Homo sapiens: one gene and its partners. The protein of the gene in region 1 purifies or fractionates together with the protein of each later gene. This does not show direct contact. Each region holds a gene or a part of one and is shown in the gene's direction. Other genes may lie near its edges. The genes, in order: MYEF2, ADNP2, NPHP4, PRPF40B, NKAP and SFXN1.

What was found.
Region 2: the proteins of MYEF2 (region 1) and ADNP2 purify together in Homo sapiens (affinity purification with mass spectrometry; one large-scale study listed by BioGRID and IntAct). This does not show direct contact.
Region 3: the proteins of MYEF2 (region 1) and NPHP4 purify together in Homo sapiens (co-immunoprecipitation; one large-scale study listed by IntAct). This does not show direct contact.
Region 4: the proteins of MYEF2 (region 1) and PRPF40B purify together in Homo sapiens (affinity purification with mass spectrometry; one large-scale study listed by BioGRID and IntAct). This does not show direct contact.
Region 5: the proteins of MYEF2 (region 1) and NKAP purify together in Homo sapiens (affinity purification with mass spectrometry; one large-scale study listed by BioGRID and IntAct). This does not show direct contact.
Region 6: the proteins of MYEF2 (region 1) and SFXN1 purify together in Homo sapiens (affinity purification with mass spectrometry; one large-scale study listed by BioGRID and IntAct). This does not show direct contact.

Annotation. Positions count from the first base shown.
Region 1 is NC_000015.10:48,156,932-48,162,167, reverse strand, and holds part of MYEF2 (myelin expression factor 2), read left to right. Parts: intron 1-2,363; coding exon 2,364-2,555; intron 2,556-3,245; coding exon 3,246-3,399; intron 3,400-3,943; coding exon 3,944-3,993; intron 3,994-4,111; coding exon 4,112-4,175; intron 4,176-4,269; coding exon of another isoform or gene 4,270-4,388; exon of another isoform or gene 4,389-5,041; intron 5,042-5,236. UniProt on the Homo sapiens protein: Transcriptional repressor of the myelin basic protein gene (MBP). Binds to the proximal MB1 element 5'-TTGTCC-3' of the MBP promoter. Its binding to MB1 and function are inhibited by PURA.
Region 2 is NC_000018.10:80,115,105-80,120,340, forward strand, and holds part of ADNP2 (activity-dependent neuroprotector homeobox protein 2), read left to right. Parts: intron 1-2,425; 5' UTR 2,426-2,438; coding exon 2,439-2,546; intron 2,547-2,562; exon of another isoform or gene 2,563-2,581; intron 2,582-5,236. UniProt on the Homo sapiens protein: May be involved in transcriptional regulation. May play a role in neuronal function; perhaps involved in protection of brain tissues from oxidative stress. May be involved in erythroid differentiation.
Region 3 is NC_000001.11:5,985,070-5,990,305, reverse strand, and holds part of NPHP4 (nephrocystin-4), read left to right. Parts: exon of another isoform or gene 1-3,509; intron 3,510-3,614; exon of another isoform or gene 3,615-3,681; intron 3,682-3,978; 5' UTR 3,979-4,016; coding exon 4,017-4,151; intron 4,152-5,236. UniProt on the Homo sapiens protein: Involved in the organization of apical junctions; the function is proposed to implicate a NPHP1-4-8 module. Does not seem to be strictly required for ciliogenesis. Required for building functional cilia.
Region 4 is NC_000012.12:49,625,616-49,630,851, forward strand, and holds part of PRPF40B (pre-mRNA-processing factor 40 homolog B), read left to right. Parts: intron 1-4,929; coding exon 4,930-5,010; intron 5,011-5,236. UniProt on the Homo sapiens protein: May be involved in pre-mRNA splicing.
Region 5 is NC_000023.11:119,923,462-119,928,452, reverse strand, and holds part of NKAP (NF-kappa-B-activating protein), read left to right. Parts: intron 1-3,058; coding exon 3,059-3,233; 3' UTR 3,234-4,991. UniProt on the Homo sapiens protein: Acts as a transcriptional repressor. Plays a role as a transcriptional corepressor of the Notch-mediated signaling required for T-cell development. Also involved in the TNF and IL-1 induced NF-kappa-B activation.
Region 6 is NC_000005.10:175,502,560-175,506,059, forward strand, and holds part of SFXN1 (sideroflexin-1), read left to right. Parts: intron 1-3,500. UniProt on the Homo sapiens protein: Amino acid transporter importing serine, an essential substrate of the mitochondrial branch of the one-carbon pathway, into mitochondria.

The DNA of each region.
Region 1 (5,236 bases):
ACCAACATATAACATGTATCCCAGATACCTTTATTTGAGCTTGCTTCCAAATTATTCTAGTCCTGTTTGAGTCTGGGGTTTATTATTAAAAAAGTTATTAACAGGAATGTATAGAATTAGCAGAGAAAATTTTGACTGTTGTGGTTTGTGTCAGCCAATTATTGGTGGTTTTTATGCATAAGCCAGGGCCAGTGCTTCAGAAATATATTGGTATCTTAATTTTCTTTAAATTATAATAATCAGAATGATTATTTTGAGGATTAAATTAGGTTGGTGCAAAAGTAAATGCAGTTTTTGCCATTAAAAAAAGCTTTGAATTAAAATAATGGCAAAAACTGCATTTACTTTTGCACCAACCTGACAATTTTCTGTTTTATGTTTTCTGTTTCTCTTCAAAGGACATGTACTACAGATTCTTAGTGTCTTTTTCTTTTATTGGAAAAAAAAGTTTATTGGATGCTAAATATCATCCAATAAACTTCCATATAATATTGGATGCTAAATATCATGTTATTGTGTTCTTTTAAGTTTCAGCACATTGTAGATCCTCAGTAATATTTCAGAGACCCTGGAGTTATATAATCCAAGTTGAAAGAGGATGCCGCCATTTTTAACTTTTTTAAGAGAAAAAAAAAAGGCTAAATTTGGCCTAGCTAAATGATGAGGGATTTATTCAGTTGACTTTTTTGAATTAATGTCACTTTGGCAGTCCCTTTCCTGGGATATCTAATTTATAGAGGGGTGGATGGAATGAATGCTTAGAACTGCTACTGAGGAAAGTCTAAGGAAGGTGTATTTCCAATGTTCCTTAACAGACTTTAGAGTTACATTTTTTTCATTTAATTAAATGCAGAATAGTAGCAGTTATAAACTGCTATTGTAGGCCCTCCAAAAGCAATAGCAGTCAGTAACCAGCAGGCTGACAGCAAGGGGAAAAGAAGAGTAAAAGTCATGTTATATAGTAGGTGGTTTGTTTTATATAAATTTTATTTTATATATGTTTTATGTATGTATGCATGTATTGTATGTGTATATATTTCTGTCATATATATGTATATAAAAGACAGATCAACACAGCAATACATCTTGTTAATGTTATAAGCACAAACAACCGAAATAGCTTACTATACTAGTTGAAGAAATATCTTCTCTTCTGAGTTATCTTTCTTCCCCATAGGTAGCCACTGTCCTAAATTTCGTATTTTTACCTCTTTTTGAATCCTCAGGCCTAAAGAATTTATTTATTAACTTATATGTTTTGAAGCATTCTTTGATACATTTTTTTTTTCTTTTGTAATCCTTTTTATTCCTTCATAGTGAAGAAATATGTTGCAAGCCAGAATGGTTTTATTATTTTACCTTTTCACCTTTTATTCTCCAGCCATCCTAGAGAATTTATTAAAATCACTTGACTTTCTTTTTATTAGTACTGTATTCCCAGACTGAGGCCAGCAAAGTAGATTTGATGGTTACCTTTACACTTCATCTTAGCCTAAAGATAGAGAAGTGATGATGGGGTGATTACCTTTAACATAATCATTTGGCATTGCAGATGATAGTCTATCCATGTGTTTATGTGGTTTTTGTTTATTTATTTTTGTTTTTTAGTATTCCACCTAGTGGGATGAGTGAGAAGTACATTTATGTTTGTGTGTGTGTGTGTGTGTGTGTGTGTGTGTGTATGTTTGGTTTTGTTTAAAGGTAGGGTGTTTCTCTTAAAAAATTAATGAACCTAACAAAAAAACAATGTTTAATATCATTTCTCACTTGGACATTTAGCCCTCCTTTATCTCTCCTCTCCTCCATCTCAGATTATAATCATTGTTGAAGAAGGTAAGAGTTTAGAAGGTGGGTAACTGTATTTTGTTCAGGAATAAAATTTACAGATTACAGTCGGCCATCCTATCCTCTACCCCAGTATTTGGGTTTTATAACAGTCTGTTCCAGTATTGAAAAGCTTTGAATTAGTCTGAATTTGGCATTCCATTGGGCATCCAATAGTGAGAAATGACCATTCCTACATTTTGGAAAGAAAAGTTGCAGTGAGTACTTCGCTCTTCTTTGAGTTACATGTATGTATGCATGTACCCTAGTGTGAGAGCAAAATTAAACTAATTTCAAGTTCTTAAGTGGCTTTAGTGATTGGAAAAAAAAATTAACTGACATCTCTGGAGGCTGAAATATTTTGTTTATCCACAGGTTTTTATGGGACTCAATTCTCTGGATGAGAAAAAAGCTCACTCTTCAAGAGGGTCAATAATTTGAGCCAGACAGGATAGCTACTGTAGAATTTAAATTGTTATTTTAATTTTGTAGAATTAGTGATGTATTTAGTGGAATTTAACATTCAATGTGTGTTATAGGATCCTGATGGAGAAAATGCTCGTAGGGCATTGCAGCGAACAGGAGGATCATTTCCAGGAGGACACGTCCCTGATATGGGATCAGGGTTGATGAATTTACCACCTTCCATACTCAATAATCCAAACATTCCTCCTGAAGTCATCAGTAATTTGCAGGCCGGTAGACTTGGTTCCACAATTTTTGTTGCCAATGTAAGTTCAAGCTTTAGTCTAAAATTTGTCATTCAGATAGATAGCTAATTTGATTAAATGAATGAGTTATAGGTTTATAGAACATTTTGCTTATTTTTAACTAAAGTAAGTGAAATAGTAATTATTGTAAACTCAAAATCAATTGACGTATATACATATATATACACACACACACACACGCACAAGGTTAGAGTTTAAATACAACTATTTGGATTTTTTAAACATGGAACTGTGCAGTTTATACACATTCAAGCAGTTCTTGAAATTATATGTGTTTTGGTTTATATTGGTAAATGGATTTCTTTTTTTAGTCTTGATATTTGTGAATATGCATGCCATAGTTGGTTTGTTATTTGTTCTAAGCATCTGAAAGTCAGTGAAAACAATACTTTTCAAAATCTGGATTTCTCTTGGTAAAAATAGATATGCAAGTTTCAAATGTACAAAACAGGTTTGAGCAGTTGAGAGATGATTTTGGAAATTAAAAAAAATAAGGATAAGGAACAATGTAGACGTAGCTTAAATGATTTTAAGCAACTGAAGATGTTTTAAAATTTGAACATTATCAATATATTGTTGAACTAGAATTATGGTTCTTTATGGTTTTAAGAGTTTAGAAAAGATTTTTTGTATTTACAGATGGGGAGATGGATTTATTAGGTATGTAACTTTATACAATTTTATATTAAGCTTGACTTCAAAGTTGGTTGGAAGAAGCTAAAGGAAGTGTTCAGCATAGCTGGAACTGTGAAGCGGGCAGATATTAAAGAAGACAAAGATGGCAAGAGCAGAGGAATGGGCACTGTCACTTTTGAGCAAGCAATTGAAGCAGTTCAAGCAATTTGTATCCTGATTTACATTTCAGCATTGTTTATGAGGTTGAAGAAGCATAATACCACCTTTGTTTTGGCGGGGGGTAATTGAATTTAAGGTTGCCTGGCTTAGAGATGTGTGTTAGACTTTAGTCTCCAGCAAATAAAACCCTTAGTAGGTCCAAGTATTAAAGTCACTCTTAAAACTTGAATTGGCCATATTGTACAGGGCTGGTATGAAGTTTTTTCTTTTCTTTCTTCCTACCACAATTAATTGTATACATGGATTTAACAATTGTGTAATCTATTGTATATTAATGCAGTTACTTTAAGCGAAGCCTTACGAGTTTACTTTTTTCAATGGTTGAATTAAAAATACATCTTATTGATGAAATAAAACCGTAAAGCAAAGAATTGAATATTTTTTTGAGTATATGAAAGTGGCTAATATCAATAAGTATTAAAGATGTTAATTAAAATATCAGAGAGTTGGACTCTAAGATTATTAAAAATTAGTTTGTGTTCTGTTATAATTTTATAGTTATCTTAACTGACTTTCCTTGACTGAACCAACAGCTATGTTCAATGGGCAGTTTTTATTTGATAGACCTATGCATGTGAAAATGGTGAGTTCCTGTATATCACTTCAACCTCCAACCTCTTCAGATCTTTTATTGGCTCTCTTCTACATTACAGTTCTTTGTGGTAATATGTTAACCATATTATAAACTTTCTTGCAATTAGGATGACAAGTCTGTTCCTCATGAAGAGTACCGTTCACATGATGGTAAAACACCACAATTACCACGTAAGTAAAAGCTATTATGAGAAACAACATAGGCTTTTTTTGGTTTGTTTTATTATGTGCTAAGCAACACTTTGTTTTTGTGCCTACATCCTAGTTTCTCACAATTTGGGATTAGTTTGGAGTTATGAAGATAGTTTGGCGCTATTGATTAGGAAGACTGAGAAGATAAGTGTTACGTGCCATTTTTTTTTTCTCTTTGGTAACTTTTCCTGACTAATCAGCAATACATTCTAAAATGTTTGGTAAATTTATACACTTGAAGGAAAAAAAGTCCTCTGTAATTTCACCATCTGTGGGTAACCTCATTATAACATTTTTGTGTATTTTCTTCTAGCCTGCTATGTATATTTTTTACATAGTTGGGAACAAAAATAATTTTGAATTATTTTTTGTTTAACATTAGAGTATAAGCATTTTTTCATGTTGAAGATTCTTTTCAAATATTTTTATTGGTAGTATAATAGTCTATCATATAGATGTTCCATAACTATTTCACTGTTCTGTATTTTAGGTGTTTTAACTTTTCTTTTGAGTAACCACAGAGTAACACATGCCTTTTTGTTCACAAATCTTTGTAATGTTTTTGAGTACTTCCTTCAGACAGATATTCTGAAGTAGATTTACAGTTCTCATGGGTTAGTATTATCAAATTGTTTTCCAAAATGACTATAACAGTGTAATATACTTATTGTATTATGTGTCTCAGTGCCTCTGTGTCTCAGTGCCTCCTTTGAAAAGTGGGGAGAATAATATTGTCTACGTCATGGGGTTGACATGAGTATTACATGAATTAATATATGTAAAGCACTTAGAATCATTTTGGCATAATGTAAACACTCAATAAATATTAGCTATTGTTTTTACTATTTCACTGCATCTTCTCTGGTTTTTAAAGTATTCTTATAAGAAATCTTAAATATACAGACAAAAGTAAAATTACTCATATAGTTATCATATGCCATATTTGTTGTAGATTTTTTTCTTTAAAATAAATAAAATTTTATGGTAAAATGGAGCTTCCCCATCTCCCTTGCCCATCTTTCAACTTATGCCTTATCCAG
Region 2 (5,236 bases), on another chromosome or scaffold:
GGCCGTATTGTAAGAGCATGTGGGTTGGAAGGTATTGTGTGTTTGGAAAATTCACTTTGCCACAGGTTGTATCTGTTACTTGATATATGCCCACATTGTCTCGTATCTGGCCTATGGGAGCCCTTTCAAGCTGGTTACTTCTGTGTTCTGTTGACATGCCTCATTGAGCAACTGCTTTATATTCCGGCACAGGATGTTCTAGGCTCATCTTGTCTTTACCATGCTCCAGCCATTTTTCCTAGGGTTCTTTTTAAAGGAAAGCGGTATTTAGGAATTCAGGTTTGAGCCCTAGTTGTGCCCACTGCTACTGGGGTGTATAACTGCATCCAGGCACTCTCAGTGGGCAGAGCTATGGAATGTATGTGTGTATGTGGACACACACTCTCAAACTATCTCTATTCTTCTATCTGTGTGTTGAAAACAATGAGTTCACTTCAGTAACCCCTAGTCTGGTCAAGTACTACAGGGTTTATTTTAATTTTGTGCCTTTTTAGATATTGTTTTAAACAGCTTGAGATATAATTTATGTACCATACAATTCACCAGTTTGAAGTGTACAGTGAATGGCTGTGGGCTCATTCACATTGCGTATACATCACCACAGTTGAGTTCAGAACGAAGAAGCCCTGCTTCCATCACTTCCCAGTTCTCCCAGCCCTGGCAGCCACTGTTGTGCTTTTTTTTTCTGGGGACGGAGTTTTGCTCTTACTGGTCAGGGTGGAGTGCAGTGGCGCGACCTCGGCTCACTGCAACCTCTGTCTCCCAGGGTCAAGCAATTCTCTTGCCTCAGCCTCCCGAGTAGCCGAGATTACAGGTGCCCAGCTAATTTTTTGTATTTTTAGTAGAGATGGGGCTTCACCATATTGGCCAGGCTGGTCTTGAACTCCTGACCTCAGGTGATCCACCCACCTTGGCCTCCCAAAGTGCTGGGATTACAGGTGTGAGCCACTGCACTCGGCCCACTGTTGTGCTTTCTATGGATTTGCCTGTTCTGGACACTTCACATAAATAGAATCATACAATATGTGGTCCTTGTGTCTGGCTTCTTTTACTTAGCATATTTCCAAAGTTTGTCCATATTGTAGCATGTATGTATTTCATTTCTTTTATGGCCAAATAATCTATTGTATGGATATGTCATATTTTATTTATCCAGTCATCAGTTTATTTATCAAATGCCCCAATGCAGGGGCATTTGGTTTGTTTACACATTTTGGTGACTGAATAGTGTTGTCATGAACATCCTTATATAAGTTTTTGGGTGGATGTATGCTTTTCTCTTGAGTGGAATTGCTGGTTCATATGTTACCTATATTTTTAATCTTTTGTGGGACAGCCAGACTGTTTTCAGGCACACATGAAGACTGGCTGCACTGGTATACATTACTATTAGGAATGTATGAGAGTTCCAATTTCTCCACGTCCTTGCCAACACGTTTCCTTTTTTTTTTCTTTATAGATATCCTGGTGGGCACAGTATCTCTTTGTGGTTTTAATTTGCATTTCTCCAAATGGCTAATGATGTTGAGCATTTTTTTTTGTTTTGTTTTAAGATAGGGTCTCACTCTGTTGCTCAGGCTGGAATATAGTGGCGTGATCAGACTCACTGCAGCCTTGACCTCCTGGGCTCGGGTGATCCCCTCACCTCAGCCTCCTGGATAGCTGGGACTACAGGTGCGCACCAGGATGCCTGGCTAATTTTTGTATTTTTTGTAGAGGCAGGGTTTCACCATGTTGCCCTGGCTGGTCTTCAACTCCTGAGCTCAAACAGTCTGCCTGATCTGTGTACCTCAGCCTCCTGAGCTGCTGGAATTACAGGCGTGAGCCACTGTTCCCTGCCTGAGCATCTTTTCATGTACCTTAGTGGACATTTTTCTTTGGAGAAGTGTCTATGATCCTTTGCCCATTTGTAAACTGGGTTATCTGTGTTTTAATTATTGAGATACAAGAGTTATCTGTATTCTGCATATAAGTTCCTTATTAGAAAGGAATAATGGTTTGCAAATATTTTCTCCCGTTTTGTGGGTTTTTTGCTTTTTTGATGGTGTCCTTTGAAGCATAAAAATTTTTAATTTTGGTGAAGTCCATACCTATTTTTTCTTTCATTACTGGTGCTTTTTGGTGTCCTATCTAGGAATTCCTTGCCGAATCTAAGGTCATCAATGTTTATGCTTACGTTTTCTTATAAGAGTTTTATAGTTTTAGGTCTTACATACAGGTGTGTGATCCACTTTTGAGTTAATTTTTGTATATGGTGTAAGGAAGAGGTCAACCTCATTCATTTGCATATGAATGTTCACTCGTTCTACAACAATTTGTTGAAAATTATACTCTATTCCTAGTGTTTTACCAACCCTGTCAAAAAATGTATTTTTGTGTATTATATACATGTACTTATTACAGTTTTGTTTTCTTTCCTTTTAAGGAAAATTTCAAAAATGTTTCAAATTCCTGTGGAAAATCTTGACAACATCAGAAAGGTGCGAAAAAAGGTGAAAGGTATTCTTGTGGATATTGGGCTTGACAGCTGCAAGGAGTTACTGAAGGTAAGAGGACGTAAGTAGCCAACTGGAATCTGGAGGTGAGATTTGAACTCGGGTTTTTGAAGAGTGGGTAAGATTCCTCAAAATGGAAATTGCTGTTATACTTCAGATGGCTGTGTGAAAGCCTCATTAGTACTTATTTATGTCTTTATGACATAAAGTGAGCTATTTAAGCTGTTCAGGTTTTTAAGCTACTTTAAGGAGGGGATTTTTCTAGTCATTAGTTACTAAAAAATTGTTTTTGATGTTTGAGGGAAATGTGATTTGTTATTTTAGCAAAAGAAAACTAACTTAATTTCCCAGTATTGTTAGAGCAATCAACAAATGGGCATGCATAAATGAAATGATAGGGTTTTTTTTAATCCTGATTTGTGTAGTTGTATATGTGATCTCAGAAAAGTTTTCCTAAAATTTTGTCTGTCCTTATAACATTGAGAATACATAGTTGGCATATATAGTTTTAAACAATGTTAAATAAAAGTTGTTGTATATCCTGGCCGGGCATGGTGGCTCACGCCTGTAATCTCAGCACTTTGGGAGGCTGAGGTGGATGGATCATTTGAGGTCAGGAGTTCGAGACCAGCCTGGCCAACAACATGGTGAAACCCTGTCTCTACTGAAAATACATAAATTAGCTGGGTGTGGTGGCGGGCGCCTGTAGTTGCAGCTACTCAGGAGGCTGAGACACAAGAATTGCTTGAACCTGGGTGGCAGAAGTTGCAGTGAGCCGAGATAGCACCACTGCACTCCAGCCTGGGTGACAGAGTGAGTGAGACTCTGTCTCAAAAAAAAAAAAAGTTCTTATATATCCTTGTAGTCATTGGTAATGACATTTTTGTCTCGTCTAATCATTTATAGCCTTGCTTTCCCCTTCATTAATAAATGTAGTCTAGGATCAGGTATGTATTTGGTTGTCATGTCTCTTTAGTCTCCTTTTGAGGTCAATTCAATCTTTTAAGGTGGAATTCTGTTAGGAAATTTGTTTTATTTTTAAGTAACATGTCAGTAACAACAAAAGTTTTTCATCCTAGAGTCCTTTGTTTTTGACTTGACTGGAACTGAACATTGCTCGTGAACTTTTGCTTCCTTAGCCTGAGAATGTGTTTACTCTTCTGAAGTTCTTCACGGCTGTTTACTTTTTTTTCCCAAGACTTTACTGATGCAGAGATACGGTACTTCACAAGGGAAAATTAAGAGATTTGAATGGCTTAAACTGTTAATTAGATTAACTGTTGAATTAGTAAAACTATTTTGGGGAGAAAATTTTATTTGTAATTGGGCCTATAATGAAATTTTTGAAAATTCAAGTAATACAGAAGTTTTTTATAGGAAAATGAGAAAACAGACACAGAAACAAGACAGTAAGACTCACGCGTAAACCATTACCCTGAAATATCCAGAATTAACGTTGTTATATATCTATAGATTTTTAAAAACGGGATATATTCACATTTTTTTTCTTAAAAGGATATAATCAAATTGTATAAGCTACTGCACCAGCTGTTGTTTCTTTTTCACTGAACCGCATAGTGAGAACCTTTTTCCATGTGAAGTGCGTTTATTCTTAATCCACCACAGCAATTAGAGTTCTTTGTTTTCAAGCAGCAGAAACCAATCTGACCAATTTACACAAAAGGAGATTTATTGGAAGCCTCTTGGGGGGCTTAGGCAGGAGAATGGCATGTACCCAGGAGGCGGAGCTTGCAGTGAGCTGAGATGGCGCCACTGCATTCCAGCCTGGGTGACAGAGTGACAGACTCCGTCTCAAAAAAAAAAAAAAAAAAAATCCAAGCTGACTGGAGAACCAACCCTGTAGAGAGAAAGAACCAAGGAAACTACCTGTCCATCGTCCTCACTGCTGCCTTGCTCTGTATTTCAGATTTCAGAGTGGTATGTCGCTCTGCCTTCTTGTAAGATTTACACAGCACATGTGACTTCAATCTTAGCAAGAGTTAACACCTCCAATAGGAGGCTGTTCTTGTCAGTAGCCTGGCTGAGAAAAGTAAGCCCTAGGAAAGGTAGACTCTTCCACGAATCTAATATTTTCTAAACTATATCTAAACCCTGCTGCACATAGAAACTCTTTAGGAGTTGTTTTTTATAAAAATTAACATCTGATCAGAAATTAACATTGGATCTGGGATGGGCGAGGGACCCTTGTCAAGTTACCTGCCAAACATACCTTGGTGCTGCCAGTGCAGGACAGGAATGGTTGCCACCTTGCTGCACACTGAGATGCCACAGCAAGTGCATTCAACCACCTCCCCCCCAACCCCCAATCTGTGCCAGCCCCCAACTTGGGACTACAGTGGAATGTGGACCTCTTGACAACTTGGTACAGTCCCAGGTGGAAGATGTGAGTGAGAGAGTGGTTATAGGGGTGGGGACTGGGAGGAAGGCTGAGGCCAAGTGGGCTTTGGGGTGAGGGCAAGGCAGAGAGCAGTATCAGACCTGGCCCTGGAAAGGGTAAAGGAGGCAGACCATGTGTGAGCTGAGGCTCCGAGCCCTTGGCATATGCTCCATGTCCCATCAGAGTTCACTTTTATAATATAAAACACAAATTCAAAGATAGATTGTTAAGAATTCACGATGGTTACCACTGAGCATTAAATCCCTTGAGCACAGGCTTTGTGCAGCTGTGCTAGTTGCATGCCCATGGAGCTGGCCCTGACTGGTATATTCTTTTCTTTTTT
Region 3 (5,236 bases), on another chromosome or scaffold:
TGAAGACCCAGCCTGGTGTCATGGAGCTCACAGTCTCGCAGGACTACAGCACAGCCCTGGTGAAGCGTGGTGGCTCTTCTGTCACCTGCCCTGTGTGGGAGCAGCCGGAGGTGGGGGATGGGGCTCTCGCTCTGAGGAGGGAGCATTTGGTTTGACTCCTAGAGGCCAGAGCAGAGGTGGAAAGGAGCAAGGAGCAGGTGGAAGGGCACCCGGAGAGGTTTGTGAGGTGCTGGGATGGCAGTGAGAGCTGCTGCGGGCGCTTGGGCTCCCACCTGCAGAGTCTCAGGTGTCACCTCGGCCTCCGTGGCCCCTCAGACTAGGACTGCCCTGCCTCCACATCCCGAGCCTCAGGACTTCCGTGTGGGTGGCAGGTGCTTTCGGAATGGATGCCCTTCCGCCTAGTGTCTGCCCTCCTAGTACAGCAGGGGGCCGGCATGCTTCATGCTCCCTGTGAGGGTCGACTGGCGTATGCACGTCCTTCAGCAGTGTCCTTGGGCCAAGTGTGGCACTGAGTCCTGCAGACACCCAGGGAGAGGGCAGGAGGCACCGGGTCAGAAATCTGGGGCAGGTGAGGAGCATGGGCATCTGCGTCAGGAGAGACTTCCTCTCTGAAATCCCCACCTGGGGCCATCACGGCCTGCATTGTGTGTGAATACATTTCTGAATGTTATAAAACATCAGTGGGAAAGAAAAGCTTGAGGGTAGCTTTGCTAAAGCTTCTGTTTGGTTCCGTGACCATTTACTGAGTTGTGACGGTACCAAGAACACAGGAGGAATGAGGCTTCTTTCTTCAAGAACTTGGCCAGCGAGCAATTCAACACAAGATAGGTGACGAATGATGTGACCAAGGGAAGCACAGGGGCCATGTGAGCCTGGGGCCTGGACCCTGGGAGCACCTGGGAAGCCCTCCTGGGGGAGATGGCCCTTGAGCTGGTATTGGTCAGGTGTCTTCTGCTTATAAGTCGTGGACAGCTGTATGATTTCCTGTGGCTCCTGTAAGAAAGTCCCACAGACTTGGTTGCTTAAAAGTAGCACAAATTTGTTCTTTTCCAGTTAGGCCGGTCAGAAGTCCAAAGTCGGCTCTCCCTGTGGTGGCTCCTGGGGCTCTGGGCTGGCATGGTGTGGGCAGTTGTGGGCATTGGAGGAGAGACATCCTGGGCTCAAGTCTCCCGGGGAAGACTGATGGCTCAGTGTGGGCCATGTGTTCCTCCTTGAAGCAATCACTGCAGTCTCTGGCTGGAATCGGGGAGCAGCTCTCCCCATACATGGAATTGGGTCAGGGTCCTCCACAAAACAAGGGAAGTTGAGCGACAAAAATAGCCCACAGAGAACAAAAAGGAACAAACCAGCATGTGTGCCTGCTGGATTCACACAGGACCAGACTGAGTCTGGTCCTCAGGAATACCTGGCCCACATGCAGCATCTGCGTGCACTGTGGGTGGAGGCGGGACGCTGGGCCAAGGATGCAGCGTCTGGGTGCACTGTGGGTGGAGGCGGGACCCTGGGCCAAGGATGCAGCGTCTGGGTGCACTGTGGGTGGAGGCGGGACCCTGGGCCAAGGCCCCTCTCAGGCTGCCTGGTCATGTCCTCTCGGTTCCCACACATGCCGGGAGCATGCAGGGGGTGAACCATTAGCACAACCCTTCTCAAACTTTTTGGTCTCAGATCCCTTTACCCTTTAAAAGATTATTGAGGACCCCAAAGAACTTTTGTTTATGTGAGTTATATCTACCAATGTTTACTGCCATAGAAGTTAAAACTGAGAAATGTTAAAAATATTAATTTATTTAAAAATAAGGCTGTGACATGTTAACATAAAAACATTTTTTACAAAAACCAACTATATTATCCAAAACAAAAAAAAATTTAGAAGAGTGGGATTCTTTTGCATTCTTGCAAATATCTTTACAGTCTCCTTAAGAGAGGACAGCTGAAGGCTCCTGTTTGCTTCTGTACTCAGTCTGTTGCCTTGTGTTGCCTTGGTTGAAGTATGTGAAGGAAATCCATCCCGATCTAGTTAGGGAGGAGTCTCTTGGGTCATTGTGGATATTCTTTGCTGCTGCATTGAAACCCTACGAGCAGAAGTTTCTTAAGGATTTGTTCTAAAGCAGAGTCTCCACCATGTGAATGAACTCTTCGTGCTCTGACATTAAACTCCTTTGGTCTGTCTTGCACTTTGGGTGGATGTTTTCTTCTTGCAGGATTTTGTACCATTACGCATTGTTCAGAAAATATTGGTTCACGGAGTCATGCAGACCTTCCAACTATTGACACATTTAATGGTGTAACCTTAGAAGATCACGTTATATCACTGCCCCTCTCATCAGGAAAGTCTTGAAGAAGTGTGAAGCTAGTAGGCTCATGGTAGAGGATACAAATGTTCTTAATTCTCATTTTTGCTTGGAAACTCCATTTTTGTTGCAGTTGTTTTCCCGGAAGTGACATGCTAACTTTGTTCACGTTTGAGAAGATGTCTGCCAAGTACCCATGTTTGTCTCTCAGTCATTCTTCTTAGTGAAAATGGTGTTGAATAATAAAAGCGGTGTGTTCAGCATGCAGCCCAGTCACAGCCAGGCTTCCCCGGGGATGACTGTTGCCTTTCAGTTTGCAGCAGAAATGCTTGTTGTGTATTTTCCATTTCGTCTCACAAAATTAAGAACGTGTGTACTCAAAGGTCAAGAAGTAATAAGATTAATAGTTTTTCCGGCTTCACCAAGGATGTTCTTACTTGAAGCTGCCTTGTTCTTTTCTGTGAGAGGTTGGGAGGACCTCACTCAACCCAACCAGCCTTGGGTTGAGTGAGGCCCCAGTGGCTTTCCCTGCTGCTGCCTCTGCCCCACCATGCCACCATGGTGAAAGAGATAACACCTGGGTGTCATGAAAATAGTTTTGACCTTGTAGAGCCCCTGACAGGATCCTGTTGAACCTTGGGTTTGGGGAATGTACTTAGAGAGCTGCTGTCTTAGAAGGCCAAACCCACTTCTTTTTCTCCTTACTCGCCATTTTAGTTTACGGAATTCAACCTCTTCTTGAGGTTCAGATCTTTGGATTCTGTGTTGGCTAGAGAAGATTTAGATCCCGGTCTGGCTGGACAGGATCAGATAACACTCAAAACGGGCCAAGACCCACCAAGAAGCTGGTAACACCTGAAACCTGTCCCCAAATGGCTTTAGCAACAAGAGACTTTGTTCATGTAGCTGAAGTGTCGTGGGGTGACCAACTGAGGTCTCTAATAATGACATGGGGACCCAGTGGCCCTCACTCCTACCTTTTCCTCTCTGCTTGTTTTTATGTGTGTCCTAAGGTGGCCCCGGGCAGTTTCAGGCTGACCACCTCTTGGCCCAAGGGCTGTATTCCCTCTCTCATGCTCCCTGGGTCCCCTACAAGACAGTCTTAACGCTAGGACTGTATTTCAGCAGCCACCCACCCCTGGTGTCCTTGTGTGGTATCCAACTTACACAGCTGAATAAAACATCCCTTCATGTCCCCATCCGGAACCAGCCACAGAGGTCAGGAGAGTCGTGCCCTGAGTCTGGCCCACGGGGGTAGGGGTGGGGCGGAGGGTTCTCTGGAGGTAGATTTTATTTCTCCATTTTATTTTTATTTCTGAAAAGGTAATTCGCATAGTTCAAAGTTGACAAGGATACACAGGAAAAGTGAATCATCCCATGTTGACCCCAGGTACCTGGTGTATCACCCTAGATACAGTGTGTTATTGTACAGCTTTCATAAATTCTAAGCAAATACAAATAAATATATCTACGTTTATTTTTCCTTTTTGAAATGCAAATGGTACTTCCTAGAGGAGGCAGCATGGGTGCCAGCCAGCAACAAAGTCCACTCTTCTGGGGTTTGCAGAGTGTGGGTTTGGGGGATGGAGGTTCCTCTGGGATTTAGTGGGAGGCAGAAGCCTTCAGGATTGCTGTGACCACTGTAGCCCTCACAGCTCTTCTCTTTATTTGAATACGACTGGCACAGATCATCCGGGAAGCCCACGGGACCCTCAGGCGGGCAGGATGAACGACTGGCACAGGATCTTCACCCAAAACGTGCTTGTCCCTCCCCACCCACAGAGAGCGCGCCAGCCTTGGAAGGAATCCACGGCATTCCAGTGTGTCCTCAAGTGGCTGGACGGACCGGTAATTAGGCAGGTAACAAAATGTGCTGTTAGCAAATGCGTGTTATTGCTCTTAGCTGACATGAGGCTTCCAGTTAACAGATGGATGGTCCCTGGCTTACGATGCTTTGATTTTTGATTTTGCTACTTTATGGTGGTACCCATATAGCCATTCTGTTTTTCACTTTCAGTGCTGTTTTCAATATATTACAGGAGATACCCAACATTTTATTTAAAAATAGGATTTGTGTTAGATGACTTTGCCCAGTTGTAGGAACATGCAAGTGTTCTGACCATGTTGAAGCTGGGCCACGCTAAGCTCTGATGTACAGTAGGTTAAGGGTATTAAATGCATTTGAACTTATGACATTTTCAACTTAAACAGGATAGAGTCCCATCATAGGTCAAAGAGCATCTGTATTGATTTTCACTTACTCGTTTGAGTCTTATACCACCATACCCATTACCTTGGGCCTTGGCAGTATTCGGATGCAAAGTGGCCCATCAGCAAAGAGAATCTATGATTCAATGACATGGTCAGCACTTTTGACTCTGGGTAGGGTTTCTTTCTGCCCACAGTGGAGCAATTTAAAAACCCAAGTACTCTGATTTCCTGGGTTATTTGTGAGCCAGGTGGCCTTGTGCATGGCTCAGCATGGCCCGCTTTCAGCCTGGCAGTGAGGACTGCAGGGGCTGAGCTACGGGCATTCTGGCAGCTCTGTGCGTGGCTGGATGTACCACGGCCTTGGGCACACTCAGGCCCAGGCCCTGATGGCGGCACATCCATCTGTGCCCTTCAGCTGGCGGGGAACCTGCTGGACAAGCTGGTGCTTCTGTGCTGCTGCCCACGGGACACCCACACGATTGGATTGTCCTCGTGAGGCCCAGTGGCCGGTGGGAATGCGTGAGAAGGATCAGTCTTGCCATTGTCAACCCTTTTTACAGGATTTGGCTTGGCAAGGCCGTTTTCCTCTGCAGCTGGGAGAGTGATATTCACATATATTCAGTTGTTGGAGCCCCGGGTCTGTGACTAATTTACTATTATTAAATCACTGATGTTCTATATCGTTCAATTCCAAGCCCTTGGATTGAGCACCTGCTGTGTCTTTGCCACTGTGG
Region 4 (5,236 bases), on another chromosome or scaffold:
TTGGTGGTGGGAAAGGGGTGGCCCCTCACTGGCCCAGGTGAACATATGATGATCAGATGATCAAGTGTCTCTTCATCATCTCTCAGCCCACAAATGTGTTTTTGTTCCAGGGAAGACACAGGATCTGCTTCTCTTTCAGCAACCATTTCTATATCCTTCCCTGTCACTAGTTAATGTCTTCATATTCTCACCCAGAAATAAAATAAGACCCAAAGTTTTATGGCACTGCAGCAGGTAGGAGAGGGACGGGGTGTTTCAGGAAAGCAGGGACACAACACGGGAAGCTCAGCGAAGGAAGGGCTTTGGAAGTTCTGTAGTAGTTTATGTTTATTCCATTGTTCTGTCCTCTGTGGGGAACTGTCCAGAATAGGCCAGTGTCTGAATCCTGGCCAGAGGTCTTCATCCCAAGTTGAAGATGACTGTATACAGTTAGCTTTATTAGGTTTTCTCATGCCAACATTTCAATCCAATTTCCTTTTTCCAAGCCACAAAGACTTCTGCCAAGCTACCTCTCTCTGTCACAGCCTGTATGTCAGAGAATTTATACAGATGTACATATGCACACGTGTATACACTGTTTTCAAAGTGCATTTTAGGATATTCCAGTATGCAAAAATCTAATAAGGTTAGAGATGAGACTGCATTTTATCACAGCACTTTGTGTGCAGGGCCCTGACTAAACACTTGGGGGAGGTATAAAAGGAGAAAACTCAATCCCTGAATGTAGGGAAATCCCCACATGAGTGGGAGACAAGCAGTCCCACATGAAACACCCAGCAAACATTCACAGAGTAGCATGTCACTCTGCAAAGTAGTGCATCATTTATCCTGAAGGGACACAGGTAGGAGTGTGTGTATGTGTGTGGGATAGTCATAAGGGTAACCTGAAGGAGGTGAATATTGGATCATCTTGAACAAAGCATGAGACTGTAGAATAAAAGAAATGTGTTTCACTTGAGGGTAATCTAACAATTCTGTGCAAAGAGAGGAGGAGGGAAGCCATTGAGTCAGGATGAGCAAAGAAGAGTGTGGGGCGGCCTTCGTTGCAAGGCTTTGACTGTTAGATGAAAGATTTTGTAGGGTAGGCAATCGGGAACCGGTAAGTTCTCAATAAAACGTTGAATCATTGGTGATTTAACCACTTAGGTTGCAGGGGATATACTAGATTGCAAACAGACCTGTTTCATGTGGTAGGAGCTTTGCTTTTAAGGGAGGAGGGCTAGAGGGCAGATTGGATCCAGTCCCAGTTCTGTCCCTAACCAGTGGTGGCTCCTTGGACAGATTATTCCCTGAAAAAGGGGGATACCTTGGGTGACTGCCAGAGTCTCCTCCAGTTCTGACATTCTATGTTCCCTGAATAACTACTAGACCTAACTTACCAGTGGCCCCCTACTGTTTTGTAGGACTTGCCAAGACCATTTAGTCATTCAGTTAACACATACTTATTAGCACCTAGTTTGTACCCATAGATGGTGGTAAGGAAAACACAATGGGAACTGGATATGAGGTGAGCAAAAACAGATGAAGTCCCTGCCCTTCAGTGTTTTCAGTCTAGTAGGGGCCACGGATATTATATTTCATTAATTCTGAGACTCATATTTGAACATTTGTCAAGTCAGGATGCATCTTCAAATTGACAGGATATTATAATTTAATTGGCAGCATTTGTTTTTTATTCATGCCAAATAGAAAAATAATATAATCAGGATTATACAAATAACTATAAAATTCTAATGGATAATTGCCGAAGGAGAAGGTACATGGTGTTGTACAAGTATATAAAAGCGGGCTCTGACTAGTTCAGGGAGTTGGGAAAAGCTTTCGTGAAGAAATGATTGGTAGATGTGAAGTGTAGTAGGCAAGGTGTGTGGGGTTGGCAGGGCCAACCCAGTTTTCTCAGGCAAAGGTGGATGCCTGAGGTGGGAGAGCTGAGAGAAGGTGAGTAGGGCTGGAACTGAGACCCAGGAGCTCAGCATGGGGGAGATTGGCAAGGTAGCTGGGTAGCAGACCCCCTCATAGTACTGGGTAGGGGGTTTACTATTTACCCTAAGAGCAGTGGGAAGCCATTGAAGAGTTTTAAGCAGGGGGCTAACAGTCTGAGGTGCACTTTGAAGAGCTTGTTATAGCTGCTGATTGGAGTGGATGTGGGGAAAACAGTTGGGAGGCCACTGCAATTAGATGAAAAAAGATGGTGGCTTGGGCAAGATGGGTGGTGGAAAAGGAAATGGAGAGAAATGGATAGATTCAAGAAATCTTGAGGAGGTAAAGTTAACAAGACTTGGTGATTTATTGGCAAGGAAGAGGGAGTTGTGGAGAGTGACTCATAGGTTTCCATTTGGACAATTGAATGGTGTGGTGCCAGTCTCTGAGACGCTTCTGAGGCTCCCCTGGAGCCTGGTAGGACCCAAAGATGTTAGAGAGGCTCCTGAGGCAGCTTGAGATGGGAAAGTGTGACACAGAAAATTGTATTTCCTCCACTATTGATTAGTTTCTGACTTCCCATGCTGAGGAAAGCGTCAGGGGCAAGAGCAAGTCTGAATACAGAACTAAAGCAGTTGAGCACTTAGAAAAGATGAGTCACATTGGAGAGGTTTAGCTCATACCCTTTTCTTCTTAGGACAAGATGAAGGACAGTTTGTTGTTGTTGTTGTTGTTTTGTCTTTTTGAGAGTGTCTCACTCTGTCACCCAGGCTGGAGTGCAGTGGTGCAGTCTCAGCTCAATGCAACCTCCGCCTCCCAGGTTCAAGCAGTTCTCGTGCCTCAGCCTCCCCAGTAGCTGAGACTACAGGCGTGTGCCACCACACCTGGCTAATTTTTGTATTTTTAGTAGAGGTTTCACCATGTTGGCCAAGCTGGTCTCGAACTCCTTACCTCAGGTGATCTGCCCGCTTGGCCTCCCAAAGTGCTGGGATTACAGGCGTGAACCACCGCACCAGGCCAGGAACAGTTTTTTTTTTTTTTTTTTGGAGACGAAATCTCGCTCTGTCGCCCAGGCTGGAGTTGGAGTGCAGTGGCGCCTCGGCTCACTGCAAACTCCGCCTCCTGGGTTCACCTCATTCTCCCACCTCTCCCGAGTAGCTGGGACTAAAGGTGCCTGCCACCACGCCTGGCTAATTTTGTTTTTGTATTTTTAGTAGAGACAGGATTTCACCGTGTTGGCCAGGATGGCCTCGATCTCCTGACCTCATGATCTGCCCTCCTTGGCCTCCCAAAGTGCTGGGATTACAGGTGTGAGCCACCGTGCCCAGCCAGGAACAGATATTTTAAAGGCAGACATGAAGGGCGTTTTTAAATGCTGAGCATTCTCAACATAGGGGAAATTGGCAGCAGTGAGGTACCTTCTCTTCAGCCAGATACCACCTTTCCCCGGGATTCCTCCCTATCACCCCCTAACTTTCAGGCAAAGAGGCAGAAGGGCTGGGCCCTTTAGCTGCATCTCCAAGCCTCGGTTCACTTACAGTGAGTTTGTTTGTTTTTGAATGGGCAATATAGTCATATGGCTGCGTATTCAAAAGATACAAAAGCCATACAGGGAAAAGTCTCCCCTTTATCTCTGTCCCTTTCTACCATTTCTTGTGTATCATCTTTTGTCTCTGACTTTTATACAAATGATAAAAGTTTGCTGCACCTTGCTTTCTTTCCCACTTGTTAATACATCTTAGAGATCATATCGAGACAATAAGCTTCTTCATTCTTGTTTATAACTGTATAGCACTGCATTTTATGTGTATATATAATTTCATAGCTCCTTACTGGTGGCTATTTAGGCTGATTCCAATCTTCTGTTTTTACAAATAATACTGAAATGAAAACCTTAAACATACAGCATTTTGGCCATGTAGGGCTATACCTATAAAATTAATTTTTAGAAGTAGAAGGTTCTATATAGAGATTTGTTCTGTTTGTTCTTCGTTCGTTCAATATTTGCTGAATACCTATTATGTGCCAGATGCTGGTAGGTACCAGGAATACAGCTTCCAACAAGTCAGATATGATCCCTGTCTTCATGGAATGTTATTACACTCTTGTTGGGGAAAACATATCCAGGCAAACATAATAATTACAAAATTATGTACATGAGGAAACTAAAAAGGGGATCAGATAGAGAAATAGGAAGGAGCTACTTTAAATACAGTCAGGAAGTTGTCTTAAAATAAGTGATACTTAAGCTGAGAACTAAAGGATGGGATGCAGACAGCCATTAGGGGTAGGACAGGGCAACCTAAGCTGTTCAAAGCCTACATCCACAGGGAGATAGTTCAGGATTTGTAGAGGAGGGGATGGACACCAAAAAGGGGATGGAGATAAAGCCAAAGAGATGAAGTTGGCGATTGGAAGTGGAAGATGTCAAAGAAAGTAGGTGGCTAAGGATGAGGTCAGTTAGGGGAGGAAGCTGGTCATGAAGAGATGAGAATTAGGGAGACAAGCATTTTAAAGGACTAGCGACTATTTGTGTTGAGAGAGCTTTGGACTGAATCTCTGTAACTGGGATAATTAGGGGAACTAGAAAAGAGGCGACTCCCTCCCTAGATACTTTGGGAATAAAAGAGACCTCTAACTTATTTGAGAGAGGCACAGCCTTGCCCACAGGCAGGATAATGGATTAGAAGCCTTAGGTAGAGCCAGTCTGTGCCTGTAGTGAAGCCTCCTTCATCTTTTCTGTTGCTTTGACAAAATGGAAACTTTCAAAATAAAGATGACATTCAAGGGGCTCAGCCAGCTGGCTCTGAGCTGGCACAAGAGAGAGCAAAAGCACAAGAGAGAGCAAACCTACCAAGGGCTAAGGGCTTGGGGTGGGCAGGAAATCGGGCTTGAAGACCCTCCTGAATTTTGTGCTCCTTTTTCATCCTCACCACTTCTGCTTCCCTTCTGCAAAAAGCCCATCTCTGTGCCCATCCTGGGTCCTATGACTTTTCTCTCCCTCAACAGTCGGTTCCCGATTCTGGTCCCCGGCCCCCAGCAGCGCCTGCCCCCTTCCCACCGGGGCCCCCCATGATGCCACCACCCTTCGTAAGTTTTATGTCTTTCCCTGGGCTTGGCTTTTCCAGCCTGCACCCCCAACTCCCCAGCCCCTAGCCACTGCTGCATCACCAGCACAGTTTTCCTGTAATGCCCCTTTTGCTGACCTTGGAAGAGGGATGGTTTTACTTGAGCATTGGGTTGGGGAGAGCTGTTGTGAAGCCCTCAGTACATAACATTGACAATTCCCCCTTTGTCTTTTTGACCTTAGGACACA
Region 5 (4,991 bases), on another chromosome or scaffold:
TAGTACACAAAAATCCATTGCATTTCTATTTACCAGCAACAGACAACTAGAAAATGTAACTAAATAAGAAGAAAACATTTGTAATAGTATCAGAGAATATGAAGGACTTCAGAATAAATCTTAACAAAAGATGCCCAGGGCTCTGTGAGGAAAACTATAAAACATTATTAAGAGATTGTGTATTCAATACAGTTCCAATAAAAATGAACTGCATTTCTATTTACTAACAACAGAAACCTAGAACCTTGAACGTTTATAACAGTGTCAGAATATGAGAGACTTAAGAATAAATCTTAACAAAAGATGCCCAAGGTTCTATGGGGAAAAATGTAAGACATTAAGAGTCCATATCTTCAATATAGTTCCAATCAAAATCACAACACAGTTGTTTATGAGACTTATTAAGCTGGTTCTAAAATTTATATATTACACTAAAAGGACAAGAATAGCCAGGTCACTTCTGAAGAAGAAGAGCAAGAAGGTAAGATTAAAGAAAACTTAAATAGCTGGAGAGATACCAGGTTCACGGATAGGAAGGCAATATTGTAAAGTTGTCATTTCTTCCCAAATTGATCTTTATATTCAATACAGTCCCAATCAAAATCAGAACACAGTTTTTCATGAAACTTAATAAGCCAGTTCTAAAATTTATATACTAGACTAAAAGGACAAGAATAGCCAAGTCACTCCTGAAAAAGAAGAGCAGGAAGGTAAGATTTCCCCTACAAATAGGAGGACTTATTATGAAGCTTACAGCACTTTAGAAAGCATAGGAGAACAACTGAATTGTTCAGTGGAATAAAATTCAGGCCGGGCGTGGTGGCTCATGCCTGTAATCCCAGCACTTTGGGAGGCTGAGGCGGGTGGATCACCTGAGGTCAGGAGTTCAAGACCAGCCTGGCCAACATGGTGAAACCCCATCTCTACCAAAAATACAAAAATTAGCTGGGCGTGGTGGCTAGTGCCTGTAGTCCCAGCTACTTGGGAGGCTGAGGCAGGAGAATCGCTTGAACCCATGAGGTGGAGGTTGTAGTGAGCTGAGACCTCGCCATTGTACTCTAGTCTGGGCAACAAGAGCAAAACACTATCTCAAAAAAAAATAAAATAAAATTCAGAGCCCAAAGATAACCATACACGTATGGAACTTCAGTGTATGAAAGAGATAGCATGTCAGATCAATGGGGAAAGAAAGAACTATTCAGTACATGAAATAGGAGGCTGAGGCAGGAGAATCGGTTGAACCTGGGAGGCGGAGGTTGCAATAAGCCGAGATTATGCCACTGCACTCCAGCCTGGGTGACAGAGGGAGACTTGGAAGTTAAATCCACTGATAAAAACTGCTGTTCAATTACAGATTTAGACTTGGTTCTTTTTTTTTTTTTTTTTTTTTTGAGACCTAGTTTCACTCTTGTCTCCCAGGCTGGAGTACAGTGGCGCAATCTCAGCTCACTGCAACCTCCACCTCCTGGGTTCAAATGATTCTCCTGCCTCAGCCTCCCAAGTAGCTGGGATTACGGGTGCCCACCACCACACCCAGCTAATTTTTGTATTTTTAGCAGAGACGAGGTTTCACCACGTTGGCCAGGCTGGTCTTAAACTCCTGACCTCAGGTGACCTGCCTGCCTCAGCCTCCAAAAGTGCTGAGATTACAGGCGTGAGCCACCATGCCCAGCCTAGACTTGGTTCTTTTGGTTTTATGGTAAAGTAGAACCTTGAAGGAAGTTCCATCTGATTAATGACTAGTTAAATGTTTTATCTATCCTACTTCCAATTCCACAAAGGCAAATGGATATGTCACCTAGGAAGTTTAATAATTTGCCCATTTCTGATTGTTTTACTGGAAACAAATTAGACGTATACCCTTAGTATTTGAAATTAATGATAGCGGCCAGGCATGGTGGCTCACACCTGTAATCCCAGCACTTTGGGAGGCCAAGGCAGGTGGATCACCTGAGGTCAGGAGTTCGAAACCAGCATGGCCAACATGGCGAAACCCCATCTCTACTAAAAATACAAAAATTAGTCGGGCGTGGTGGCACACACCTGTACTCCCGGCTACTCGGGAGGCTGAGGCAGGGGAATCACTTGAGCCCAGGAGGCAGAGGTCGCAGTGAGCCAAGATTGTGCCACTGCACTCCAGCCTTGGTGACAGAGCCAGACTTTAAGACTCACAAAAAGGAGAAAAGAAAAAAGGATAGGCCAGGCGCGGTGGCTCACGCCTGTAATCCCAGCACTTTGGGAGGCCGAGGTGGGTGGATCATGAGGTCAGGAGATCGAGACCATCCTGGCTAACAAGGTGAAACCCCGTCTCTACTAAAAATACAAAAAATTAGCCGGGCGCGGTGGCGGGCGCCTGTAGTCCCAGCTACTGGGGAGGCTGAGGCAGGAGAATGGCGTGAACCCGGGAAGCGGAGCTTGCAGTGAGCCGAGATTGCGCCACTGCAGTCCGCAGTCCGGCCTGGGCGACAGAGCGAGACTCCGTCTCAAAAAAAAAAAAAAAAAAAATTAAAAAAAAAAAAAAAAGAAAAAAGGATAACATTTACTATGTTGACAGGAAATCAGAGATCATTATTTGAATAGTGGAAATGAATCAAAGACATATCAGGGCCGGGCACGGTGGCTCACGCCTGTAATCTCAGCACTTTGGGAGGCTGAGACAGGCGGATTACTTGAGGTCAGGAGTTCGAGATCAGCCTAGCCAACATGGTGAAACCCCATCTCTACTAAAAATGCAAAAATTAGCCAGACCTGTTATCTCAGCTACTCAGGAGGCTGAGATGGGGGAATTGCTTGAGCCAGGGAGGTGGAAGTTGCAGTGAGCCGAGATCGTGCCACTGCATTCCAACCTAGGCAACAGAGCAAGACTCCATCTCAAAACAAAACAAAAAAAAAGGACGTGTCAGGCAGCTAAAATATTAATAAATGATCTTTTGGAAATTTAACCCATTTCAATTTTTGTCAGCTGTTAAATAGACCACTCTGGGTAAGAAAGGATTAATGATGATGTACTATGAAAATAATTACTGAGAAATTAAGCCAAAAATAAAATTCTCTCCAGGCATCGCCGAATGGAGGCTGTGCGACTGCGAAAAGAGAACCAGATCTACAGTGCTGATGAGAAGAGAGCCCTTGCATCCTTTAACCAAGAAGAGAGACGAAAGAGAGAGAACAAGATTCTGGCCAGTTTTCGAGAAATGGTTTACAGAAAGACCAAAGGGAAGGATGACAAATAAAGATTTTCTGATTGTCCAGAAGACATTTTTAACAACAAAAAAGAAAGTCTGGGTTCCACACATACATAGAAAAAGATTATTATGTTCTGAGAAAGCTTTACAGTGCTACTGTGCCTTCTATTTAATTCTTTCAGTCCTTCAATAAAAAGCTGCTTATTGATATAACTTTAGCAAGTTCTTTGGGTTATTTTGGATTGACCATAGTAACTTTCTGGTTTAAAAATCCAAATTATGGGCTGGGCACGGTTGCTCACGCCTGTAATCCCAGCACTTTGGGAGGCTGAGGCGGGTGGATCACTTGAGGCCAGGAGTTCGAGACCAGCCTGGCCAACATGGTGAAACCCTGTCCCTACTGAAAATACAAAATCAGCCAGGAGTGGTGGCGCACACCTGTAGTCCCAGCTACTCGAGAGGAAGAGGCAGGAGAATTGCTTGAACCTAGGAGGTGGAGGTTGCAGTGAGCCGAGATTGTGCCACTGCACTCCAGCCTGGGCGACAAAGCAAGACTGTGTCTCAGAAAAAAATAAAAGGCCAGGCACGGTGGCTCACGCCTGTAATCCCAGCACTTTGGGAGGCCAAGGCGGGTGGATCACCTGAGGTCAGGAGTCGAGACCAGCCTGGCCAACATGGTGAAACCCTGTCTCTACCAAAAAATACAAAAATTAGCCGGGCGTGGTGGTGGGCGCCTGTAATCCCAACTACTCGGGAGGCTGAGGCAGGAGAATTGCTTGAATCCAGGAGGCGGAGGTTGCAGTGAGCCGAGATTGTGACATTGCACTCCAGCCTGGGCAAGAAGAGTGAAACTCTGTCTCAAAAAAAAAAAATCCAAATTATGAATAAAATGCTACTGTATTGGAGGAGGTGGCTTGAACAAAAAGTGTTAGTGAGATGAGAAACTTCAATCTCACACCATGAGACAGTGCTACTATTAGCTCTATGTGATGCCTGCCCCACCCCGACCTCTACCCCAGCTGAACTTTTGGGAAATTATCACTCCTCTGTGTTGAATGTGTTATAAATGGACTTGATAGGAACATATAGGAGGCCACTTTTGTTAACAAAATGAAGGCATTGCTGCGAAAAGCAAATCTGGAATTTGAAAACTGACTTGTGTACTATAATATATGATCTACCCTGGAAATAATGGGTTTTGATTTAAGTCCCTACCTCCACTCTAAAACCAACAAACAAACCAAAAAGCAAACTAACCCACAGATTTGTTGAATTGAAAATGTGAACATTAGATATTTTAAATTGTTTTTTTTGAGATGGAATCTCGCTCTTGTTGCCCAGGCTGGAGTACAATGGGGTGATCTCGGCTCACCACAACCTCCACCTCCTAAGTTCAAGCAGTTCTCCTGCCTCAGCCTCCTGAGTAGCTGGGATTACAGGCATGTGCCACCATGCCTGGCTAATTTTGTATTTTTAGTAGAGATGGGGTTTCTCCATGTTGGTCAGGCTGGTCTCGAACTCCCAACCCCAGGTGATCCGCCCGCCTTGGCCTCCCAAAGTGCTGGGATTACAGGCATGAGCCACTGCGTCCAGCCTAAATTCTTAATAAGTTACTTAAAAATAGTTATTTGAAATATAAAGTCTTAAGAAGTCTACTCTTATCCCCATGTAAATACTTTATTTCAATCTGAGCTGATATGAGCTTGAGGATAGGATAACATCCAAAAGAATAGGAGTCAACTATGGTCAAGAGTTTTGATAAGGAAAAATATAATGAGTCAGTATTTTAGCTTAATTGTTTCATAA
Region 6 (3,500 bases), on another chromosome or scaffold:
CCGGGCACAGTGGCTCATGCCTGTAATCCCAGCACTTGGGGAGGCGGAGGCGGGAGGATTGCCTGAGCTCAGGAGTTCAAGACCAGCCTGGACAACATGGAGAAACCATGTCTCTACTAAAAATATAAAAAATTAGCCGGGCATGGTGGCACATGCCTGTAATCCCAGCTACCTGGGAGGCTGAGGCAGGAGAATCGCTTGAACCCGGGAAGCAAAGGTTGCGATGAGCCAAGATCACGCCATTGCACTCCAGCCTGGGCAACAAGAACAAAACTCTATCTCAAAATAATAATAATAATAATAATAAATAAATAAATAACTGGTACATCCATCCATCGAACAGATTAACCAACTCATATAAACAACAGGGTGCTTCTCAAAAGTGTTATGCAAAGTCAAAGAGGTCAGACACAAAATACACAAAATATGTATCTACTCACTGTATGATTCCATTTGTGTGAAATTCTTGAAAAGGTAATATAGTGTTAGAAAACAGATCCATTGGTTGGCAGGAAGTGAGGAAATAACTCCAGAGGGGCCCAAGGGAACTGTTGGAGACATGGAAATATCCTGTACCACAATTCCGGGGCGGTTACACCACTGAGTATATTTTTTCAAAACTTAGCAAATTGGACACTTAAAGTGGATGACTTTTATGGTATTTAAATTATACCTCAATAAAGCTGATTTAATTTTAAAATGTTACAAGATCATAGAAAAAAAGGAAATGCTTCCCGATTCATTGCAACCCTGATACAATAAATGATTTAAAAAATACAAAAAGAAACAGTGGCCTGTCTTACAAATTGATAATGCAAAAATCCAAAGTAAAACACCAACACATAGCATCCAACCTTGTGTTAAAACATGAACTGGTAGAATTTATTCCGAGAATGAAAAGGTGATTTATATTTAGGACATTTATTAGTGTAATTTATCACATCAATATGTCAGAGCAAAAAAGCCACATCTTGATAGATGCCCAAAAGAAGGTAAAATTATATATCTATTTCCCATAAAATAATTAATCAGCTAGGCATAATGGGTGGTACTTCTTTAATTATGAAGAATGCATATCCCACATCAGTAGTGAGCAATGCACGAAATAATGGAACACTAGAGCTGAACTTCCCAAAAAGACCTCTAAAGGAAAGGAACCCTGGCCGGGCGTGGTGGCTCACGCCCATAATCCCAACACTTTGAGAGGCCAAGGCAAGTGGATCACCAGAGGTCAGGAATTCGAGACCAGCCTGGCTAACATGGTGAAACCCCGTTTCTACTAAAAATACAAAAAATTATCCAGGCATGGTGGCACGCACCTGTAATCCCAGCTACTCGGGAGGCTGAGGCAGGAGAATTGCTTGAACCTGGGAGGTAGAGGTTGCAGTAGCCGAGATTGCGCCATTGCACTCTAGCTTGGGAAACAAGAGTGACACTCCATCTCAAAAAAAAAAAAAAAAAGGGATCCTATGGAATACTTAAAGAAAGAAAAGAGGGGGGTGGGGGAAGGGAGAGAGGGATCAAGAGAGGCAGAGAGAAAAAGGGAGAGGATTTTGGTAGTCAAATTTGAGAAAGTTTGCATTCCACTCTTGAGAATGTCACATTCTATTAACTGTTCGAAGTTTCCAAAAAGTCCAGGAGTGAAAATAAAGCTGCTTAATCATTTTTCCCAAACTTGGACATGAGCCCTTTGTTTTTTTTCCATAATGTATGTAATATGTATGAGAATACTCGGCCAGGCGAGGTGGCTCACGCCTGTAATCCCAGCACTTTGGGAGGCCAGGGCAGGCAAATCACCTGAGGTCAGGAGTTCAACACCAGCCTGGCCAACATGGTGAAACCCCGTCTCTACTACAAACACAAAAACTAACCGGGCGTGGTGGCGCACACCTGTAGTCGCAGGTACTCCAGAGGCTGAGGCAGGAGAATCGCTTGAACCTGGGAGGTGAAGGTTGCAGTGAGCCAACATTGCATAACTGCACTCCAGCCTGGCAACAGAGCAAGACTCCATCTCAAAAAAAAAAAAAAGAAGAGACCATAACCAACTGAACAACCATAGAACAAATTAAAATACAATGAGGGGGCTATTTATAATAGACACAATGGTAGTTTCCTGTATAAAAGCAACAAGCAATTAGACATTGTTTTTTATTCACTTCATAAGAACAATTTTTTTTGGGCGGGGAGGGTGCGGAGTCTTGCTCTGTCGCCCAGGCTGGAGTGCAGTGGCGCGATCTTGGTTCACTGCAAGCTCTGCCTCCCGGGTTCACGCCATTCTCCTGCCTCAGCCTCCTGAGTAGCTGGGGCTACAGGCGCCCGCCACCACGCCCAGCTGATTTTTTGTATTTTTAGTAGAGACGAGATTTCACAGTGTTAGCCAGAATGGTCTTGATCTCCTGACTTCATGATCCACCTGCCTCGGTCTCCCAAAGTACTGGGATTACAGGCATGAGCCATCGCACCCGGCCAGAACAATTTTTTAAAAATGTAAAGTACTTGGGAAGAAACGCACCCAGAAATTTGCGTCAATGATGAAAACATTTGGAATCATGTTAAGTTTGAGTAAATGGAGAAATGTGCAGTAGGCCTGGGGAGAAAGGCTGGAGATTGTAGAGGTGTCAGTTGTCTCCAGATTAATACGATTTCAGTCAAATTACAACTGTGGTCACCTGTAAAACTGATAAAATAATTCTGACCGGGTGCAGTGACTCATGCCTGTTATCCCAGCACTTTGGGAGGCCGAGGCAGGGGCATCACCTGAGGTTAAGAGTTCAAGACCAGCCTGGCCAACATGGTGAAACCCCATCTCTACTAAAAATACAAAAAAAAAAGCTGAATGTGGTGGCGGGTGCCTGTAATCCCAGTTACCCAGGAGGCCGGGGCAGGAGCATTGCTTGAACCCAGGAGGCGGAGGTTGCAGTGAGCCAAGATCACGCCATTGCATTCCAGCCTGGGCGACAAGAGTGCAACTCCATCACAATAATAATAATAATAATAATAATAATAATAATAATTCTAAGGTTTATCTGGGAGAATAAATTAGTATAAGGCATCTTAGAAAAAGAAAAAGAAGAATAGCGTGTGGGACGGTTGCTCTACCCAAGATTAAAATTGACTGTCAAGTTAAAATGGTGGGTATTGGCATCAGAATATGTAGATAAGTGGAAACACAATAGAAAGTCTAGAAATCAAGGCTGGTATTCACAAACTCTCAACTGATGCAGGCCAGCCAAAAGAGAAAGTTAAGAATGTTTCACATTTTCTTTTCTTTTCTTTTGAGACTTAGTTTCATTCTTGTTGCCCAGGCTGGAGTGCAGTGGCACTGTCTTGACTCACTGCAATCTCTGCCTCCCGGGTTCAAGCAATTCTGCCTCAGCTTTCCGAGCAGCTGGGATTATAGGCGCCTGCCACCATGCCCAGCTAAGTTTTATATTTTTTAGTAGAGATGGGATTTCACCATGTTGGCCAGGCTGGTGTCAAACTCCTGACCTCAGGTGATC